Linked DNA regions of Homo sapiens. The protein of the gene in region 2 purifies or fractionates together with the protein of the main gene of each other region. This does not show direct contact. Each region holds a gene or a part of one and is shown on either strand. Other genes may lie near its edges.

The links.
Region 1: the proteins of SVOP (region 2) and CNNM1 purify together in Homo sapiens (affinity purification with mass spectrometry; one large-scale study listed by BioGRID and IntAct). This does not show direct contact.

The regions. Positions count from the first base shown.
Region 1 is NC_000010.11:99,360,208-99,363,862, forward strand, and holds part of CNNM1 (metal transporter CNNM1), read left to right. Parts: intron 1-627; coding exon 628-768; intron 769-2,019; coding exon 2,020-2,189; intron 2,190-3,655. UniProt on the Homo sapiens protein: Probable metal transporter.
Region 2 is NC_000012.12:109,014,447-109,018,101, reverse strand, and holds part of SVOP (synaptic vesicle 2-related protein), read left to right. Parts: intron 1-3,655.

The DNA of each region.
Region 1 (3,655 bases), on a different chromosome or scaffold from region 2:
GGAAATTGTGAAATAAGAGGTGGTGGCCGCCCTCCTTCCTTGTGTGGCATGCTTCAGGTACCACTCAGAGCATGGTTCACATAAGCAGCAGGAGACTAGGTGAGGCCAGTTCAGGGCAAAGGAGGGGGACAGAGTCAGAAATTCCCTGGGCCCCTGCAACCCTCTTGATACTAAGAATGCAGGTCCCTTGTGTGTGTATGACTTTGGGTAAAAGCATTCTCACAGGTAGTTTCCAGTTGGAGTCTCATAATTAATTGCACAAGATGAGTATGAGAGCTATATTAAATATTATTAGCCTCCTTGTACAGATTAAAATAAAAACTCTAATGCTTAGAGAGATTACATGGTAAGTAGGGGAACCAGCCCCAGAACCCCAGACTTGGGTACCCCAAGCCTGCTTTCCCCTTTTTCTACTATACACCCCCTAAGTGTGGAAAACACTGAAATGATGGCAGTCTCCCATTGTCTATCCCTCACCAACATCCTTCTACTTCCTGGGTGATATTGTGATGTCACCCATAGTTGACACTGCAGAAATGTTCTATCTGTCCCCTGTGATTCTGGGAAAACCTCCAAAGATCAACGTGATTCTGAGATAGCTGTAATCTGTCCTCTGTGACCCCACAGCTGACAATCGGAAAAAGCAGAGGGTCCCGCAACGGGAGCGGAAGCGGCATGACTTCTCCTTGTTTAAGCTTTCGGACACGGAGATGCGGGTGAAGATCTCACCACAGCTTCTGCTAGCCACACACCGCTTCATGGCCACAGGTAGGACAAGTCTCCACTCCAGAGAAGCTAAAACAGAATCTCTAGGGTGGGACCCAGGCACCAATCGTTGTTAATACCTTCCAGCCTGATTCCAGTGTGCTGTCAGGACTGAGAAGCACTGTTCTAGGAAGGAGGTTGCCTTAGACAGGGTAATGGATGCCACCTACTGTCGTATTGAGCCCCAGGCCTGATCTCATAGAGGAAGAAATGAGTATAACTCAACTCTTCTACCAGAGAAAAGAGCTAAAGAAACCATTGCTGCACTTTTCCCTCTTCTACTCACTTCCTCGCTGAAGCCCGAGGCCATCTCCCTGTCTGTTAGACTTGCAGTGCCCTAGAGCAGTGCCACAGAAGCCTGTGAGCTATGAATTTTTAAAATACAGAAGTGTATTGTGAATCTTGGGATCTTTAGAAAGAAAAAAAAGTGAGAAAATCCAAAGATAAACTCCTTCTTGTGAAGAAGATAAAGTTTGTCTTTGAACCCTCTGACCATCCATGCCTAATTAATGTGCTGACCTAGAATGATCATATCTATCACTAACTTCAATATTTAATTAATCCAACATATATTTATTGAGTATGTAATGAGTGCTAGCACTGTTTTAGGTGCTAAAGAGTAGAAAATTTTAAGTTGGAGCTGCTTTAAGATAGAATTTCTAGTTCTGAGTACAGATTTCTTTTAACTACTTCCCAGAGCCTATGTTATATAAGTAATATAAGTTTAACATATGTAATATAAGCAATAGCTGTAATATATAAATATGATGCAATGATGCCTCACATTATTGACAACTTATTATTTAAATAATTGCCTGTCTTTAGTAACATGGGATTTCATTTCATTCAGCAGATATATGTCATACAAATAAGCCAGATTAAATTATCTGCATTTCATTCAATTATAGCATTAAAGTCTTTGTTGTTTATGTGGCTTAGTTGTCCATGTCCAATTTTAAATAAAATCAAAGAAAATTAATAATGAAACAGACATTTCCAAATGGAGACCTGTTTCTCCTGAGATGCCAGTGCAGGGACACACATCTCCAGAGGACGTGGGTAAGGCCCTGAGATGCACACTTGGGATTAGGATCCTCCACTCCGGAGGAACTGCAGAAGCCCTGCCAACCTGATGCCCAGGTACAGGCACAGGGGTCCCAGTTGTGCCCACTCTGACTCCTCCCAGCTGCCACTGCTGGAATGGGTGGGACACAGCTGATGCTGATTCCTCCCTTCCCACTCACTCTCCTCTAGAAGTGGAGCCCTTTAAGTCTCTGTACCTTTCGGAGAAGATCCTGCTCCGGCTCCTGAAACATCCCAACGTGATCCAGGAGCTGAAGTTTGATGAGAAGAACAAGAAGGCCCCGGAACACTACCTCTACCAGCGCAACCGCCCTGTGGACTACTTTGTGCTGCTTCTACAGGTGAGTAGGAAAGTCAGGGAACCTCTGAGAGCCAGAGGAGGGCATCTCCAGGGTGAAGAAATGGCCATGCCTCCGTCAGCACCAAGTTCCAAGACTTGGCTGGCTGCCTCAGCAACAAGGCCAGCTGGGTGGACATTTCTTCATGACCCACAGGAGGGGCCTAGACATGGAAGACTGGTGTCCTGGGAGTGCTGGGATCTTTGACATTTAGTTTGACAACTCAGCGATGTTTGGGGTGGGTTGAATACCTCTCCAATAGAGGGGTTCTGCATCTAAACTTCCAGAACTGCTGCTCTGCGGAAGCTATAATACCTCCTCATCTCTGCTTGAACATCCCCTGAAATGAAACTGCCCACTGCCTCCTAAACTTTAGACAACTCTTCTTTAAACCCTTCTCTCTGTCAAGTGGAAATCTCACCATCTGTGACTTCCATACTGGTCCTTGCTCTGCTCTCTGGAGGTACATGGGACACATTCATTCTCTCAGCTGCATTTCAGCCTTTGCAGTTCCTGAAATCTTCTCCCCCTTCAGAGGACCAGGAAGGGGGAAAATGACCTGTTCAAAGAAGTGCAACATCTCCCCAGTGCTCACATAAGTATGATCACCTTCTGCTCTGGATACCTGAATAGGCCTGTCTTAAATAAGTGTCTGACATGATTGCAGCTTGTAACACTGCTGGTGCCCTGTCTGGCTTCACCATTAGCTCTGTCACTGATTCCCTGTCCCTTCCCAACATAATGTTGTGAATCCTAAATACACTGATTGTATTTTAAAATCTTGATTAAGCTCACATGAACTTAGAAATGGTCTCTTTGTTACTGTCCACTTCCAGCCTCTCTGCTCTGTCACTGTAACTTGCCTCACATATATCTTTCCAAATGGTCTGAACAAAATGACCTCTCTTCTCCAAAAAATGTAGTCATGTGCTTCACTGTTGGAAATCAACAAGAATCCTGTTACATTGTTTGTATAATGTAATGATCACATAGTTTCATGTCTTATGCTGAATATAAACTTAACGGTTTTCAAATAAAACATGGAATAAAATGTAGTAGCAAGAGTGTACGCTCAGAAATTTGAAAAATATGGCTTTAAAATTCCATTGTTGCCATTTCCTAACTAACCTGGACCAAGTTATTCAATCTCTGAGCCTCAAAATTGAGTTCCCTGTAAATCAGGGATAAAAATGGCATAGGCTTCATGGGGTTGTGGGGCTAATTGCATGAGAATCTATGCAGTGCACATAATACAGTGTCATGTCCATGCATGCTATGCATTACATATCAGCTATCACTATTATTGGCAATGAATTAAACAAGCTTCACACAGAATTAGATTTTATCTTTTTTTTTTTTTTTTTTTTTTGAGACAGAGTCTCGCTCTGTCACCCAGGCTGGAGTGCAGTGGCCCGATCTCAGCTCACTGCAACCTCTGCCTCCCTGGTTCAAGTGATTCTCCTGCCTCA
Region 2 (3,655 bases):
CCATTCTTTCACTGATTTACTTAGATACCATCCTAGGTACAAAGGATTCTACAGCTGAGTAAGGTAGAATGGTTCTTGCGCTTAAGCACCTCGCAATCTAGAGCTGCAATGTCCAATAGTACATTTAGCCACTAGCTACATGTGGCTATTTAAATTTAAACTTAAATGAATTTAAAGTATGCATTTTGTACATGAAATAATTTATATAGTATAATAAAGAATATAAAATGTATATATAATATACAATAGAAAATATGTGGCCAGGTGCAGTGGGTCATGCCTATAATCCCAGCACTTTGGGAGACCGAGGTGGGTGGATCATTTGAGGTCAGCAGTTCGAGACAAGCCTGACCAACATGGTGAAACACTGTCTCTACTAAAAATACAAAAAAAATTAGTCAGGCATGGTGGCACATCCCAGCTACTTGGGAGGCTGAGGCAGGAGAATCTCTTGAACCTGGGAGGCAGAGGTTGCGGTGAGCAAAGATTGTGCCACTGCACTCCAGCCTGGGCAACACAGTGAGACTCTGTCTCAAAAAAAATGTGTGTGTATATATATAATGTAAAATTTTAAAAAAATCTGTCCCTCAGTCATACTAACCACATTTCAAATACTCAATAGCTACATGTGGCTAGTGGCTACTATATTGGACAGCATACGTGTAGGCCAGCAGTCCCCAACTTTTTTGGCTCCAGGGACTGGTTTCTTGGAAGACAATTTTTCCATGGATGGGGGTGGTTAGGTAGGGGGATGGGGTTGGGGTTTCAGGATAAAACCATTCCACCTCAGATCTTCAGGCATTAGATTCTCATAAGGAGCCTGCAACTTAGACCCCTTGTGTGTCAGTTCACAATAGGGTTCACGCTCCTATGAGAATCTAATGCCGCTGCTGATTGACAGGAGGTGGAGCTTGGGCGGTAATGCTCACTCACCCAAGGCTCACTGTGCAGCCCGGTTCCTAACAGGCCAGAGACCGTTACGGGTCCTTGGCCCAGGGATTGGGGACCCCTGGTCTAGGACATTTCCATAATTGCAGAAAGTTCTATTGGACAGCACTGGTTTGGTAGGAGGGAGGACACTGAACACATCATTGCAAATAATTATGAGAATTGTCTTAAGTGCTATCAAGAACTACTGCAAGCCTGGGGAATATATTGAGACCTGTTACTACTAAAAAAATTTTTTTCTTAATTAGCCAGGTCTGGTGGCTCATGCCTGTGGCCCCAACTACTAGGGAGGCTGAGGCAGGAGGATTGCTTGAGCCTGGGGGTTCAAGGCTGCAATGAGCCATGATCATGACACTGCACTCCAGCCTGAGTGACAGAGTGAGATCCTGTCTCAAAAAAAAAAAAAAAAGAACTAATGCAGGGTACAGGTAAGGAAACTAGTTTTAGATGGGAGGTGGGTATCAGGGAAGGCTTCCCTGAGGAAGTGACATTTGACCTGATCCTCTGGAGATATGATTTCAGGAAAAAGAGAGAGGATTAAGAACATTCCAGGAAGAAGAAACTGTATGGGTAAAAGCCCTGAATTGGGAAAAAAGCTTGGTGTGTCTCAAAATCAGCCAAAAGATCATTAATGAACAAGTGGCTTGAGGGGAAACTGCTGAGGATAACAGGGAGTAGGCCATCCAGGGTCTTGTAGTATATGACAAGGAGTTGGGACATCATCCTGCATTTGCTGAATCTACTGTCTCCTTTCTTACAAACCCTGTCTTTCAAGATTGAGTTTGGGTCCACCATTTTAATAAATCTGCCCCTGACTTCTGCCGGTCTTAATCAATAGCAGAGGTAAAAATGTGGAAACTGACTCAGGCAGATCTGGGTTCAAACTCTGGCTCCGGCCCTATCTGGGTGGCCTCGGGCCAAAGCCTTCTTCTCCCCAAGGCTGAGTGCCTATCGGTGAAGTCAGAACAGTGATAATACCTGCAGGGCTGTTGTAAGGATCAGAGAGATAATCGCTGGGAAGCTCTCAGCACAGTGCCTGGCTTTGAGTATGGTCTCGATTTGTGGTGCTGGTATTGTTTTCCTCCACTCAGCATTCGTTTCCCTGATCTTCCAACTTATTAGGTAGTAGGAGCGCCTGGAAGCCACATTCTCCTGTGCAAAACACTAAGAAGATGTCTGGTGTGGTGTGAGAGCACATGTCTGAACTTGAACTCTTCGTCCGTCCTCCACCTGCTCCTCTTTCAGCCTCCCCCATCTCAGTTGATAACAACTCCATTTGTCCCATTTGGCCGGAAACTTTGGAGTCAAGTTAGACTCCCCTCTTCCTCCCATTTCACTTTTTTGTTTTGTTTTGTTTTGTTGAGACAGAGTCTCGCTCTGTTGCCCAGGCTGGAGTGCAGTGGTGTGATCTCAGCTCACCGCAACCTCTGCCTCCCAGGTTCAAGCGATTATCATAGCCACCCCTGTAGCTGGGATAACAGGCATGCACCACCATGCCCAGCTAATTTTTTATAGAGATGGGGTTTTGTCATGTTGGCCAGGCTGGTCACCTGGCTCCAAGTGACCCTCCCGCCTTGGCCCCGCAAAATGCTGGGATTACAGGCATGAGCCACCATGCCTGGCCCCATTTCACTTTCAGTCCATCAAGAAATCCTTTGGTCCTGCCTTCAACTTAACACCCAGACTCCCACCCCTTCTGCTGCAATCCTCTGGTTCAAGTATCCATCCTCTCTCACTGGGATTGATTGCAATGATGTCTGTGCTGGTTTTCCCGCTCCTGCCCTTGCCTCCCTATAGCCCATTCTCAACCCAGTGGCCAGAGGGATTCTTTAAAAGTCAGATCATGTCCTTCCTTGGCTCAAAAATCTTCTATGGTTCCCATCTCACCTCATCTCTTTCACTATCCTACCCATTCATGCTGCTGCCTCCCTGCTGTTCCTCAGCCATGCCAGCCAGGCTCCTGCCTCAGGATCCACCCGCTAGAAAGCTCTTCTCCAAGGTACCTGCTTCACTCTCATAAAGTCTCAAATACCACCTTCTCACCAAAGCTTACCCTAATAACTCTCTTTAAATTTGCAGCCCTCTCATATACCCATCAGGATGGCTACTATTAAAATAAAAAATACCTGAGCTGGGCATGGTGGTTCAAGCCCATAATCTCAGCACTTTGGGAGACCAATGCGAGAGGAATGCTAGAAGCCAAGAGCTGTGAGACCAGCCTGGGCAACAAAGCAAGACCCCGTCTCTACCAAAAATTTTGAAAAACTAGCCAGCCATGGTGGTGTGTGCCTGTAGTCCCAGCTACTTAGGAGGCTGAGGAGGGAAGATTGCTTGAGCCCAGGGTTTTGAGGCTGCAGTGAGCTATGAATGTGCCACTACACTCCAGCCTGGGTGATAGAATGAGACCCTGTCTCAAAAAAGAAAGAAAGACCAAAAAAATCAGAAAATAACAAATGTTGGTGAGGATGTAGAGAAATTGGAACTTTTGCACACTGTTGGTGAAATATAAAATAGTGTAGCCATCATGGAAAAGAGTATGGCAGTTCCTCAAATGTAAAAATAAAAATAATGCCATGTGACCCAGTAATTCCACTTCTGGTTATAGATGCAAAATAATGGGAAGCAGGGTATTGAAGAGATATTCGTACTTCTATGTTCACAGCAGCATTATTCACTATAGCCAAACATGAAAACCCATGCCCATGGA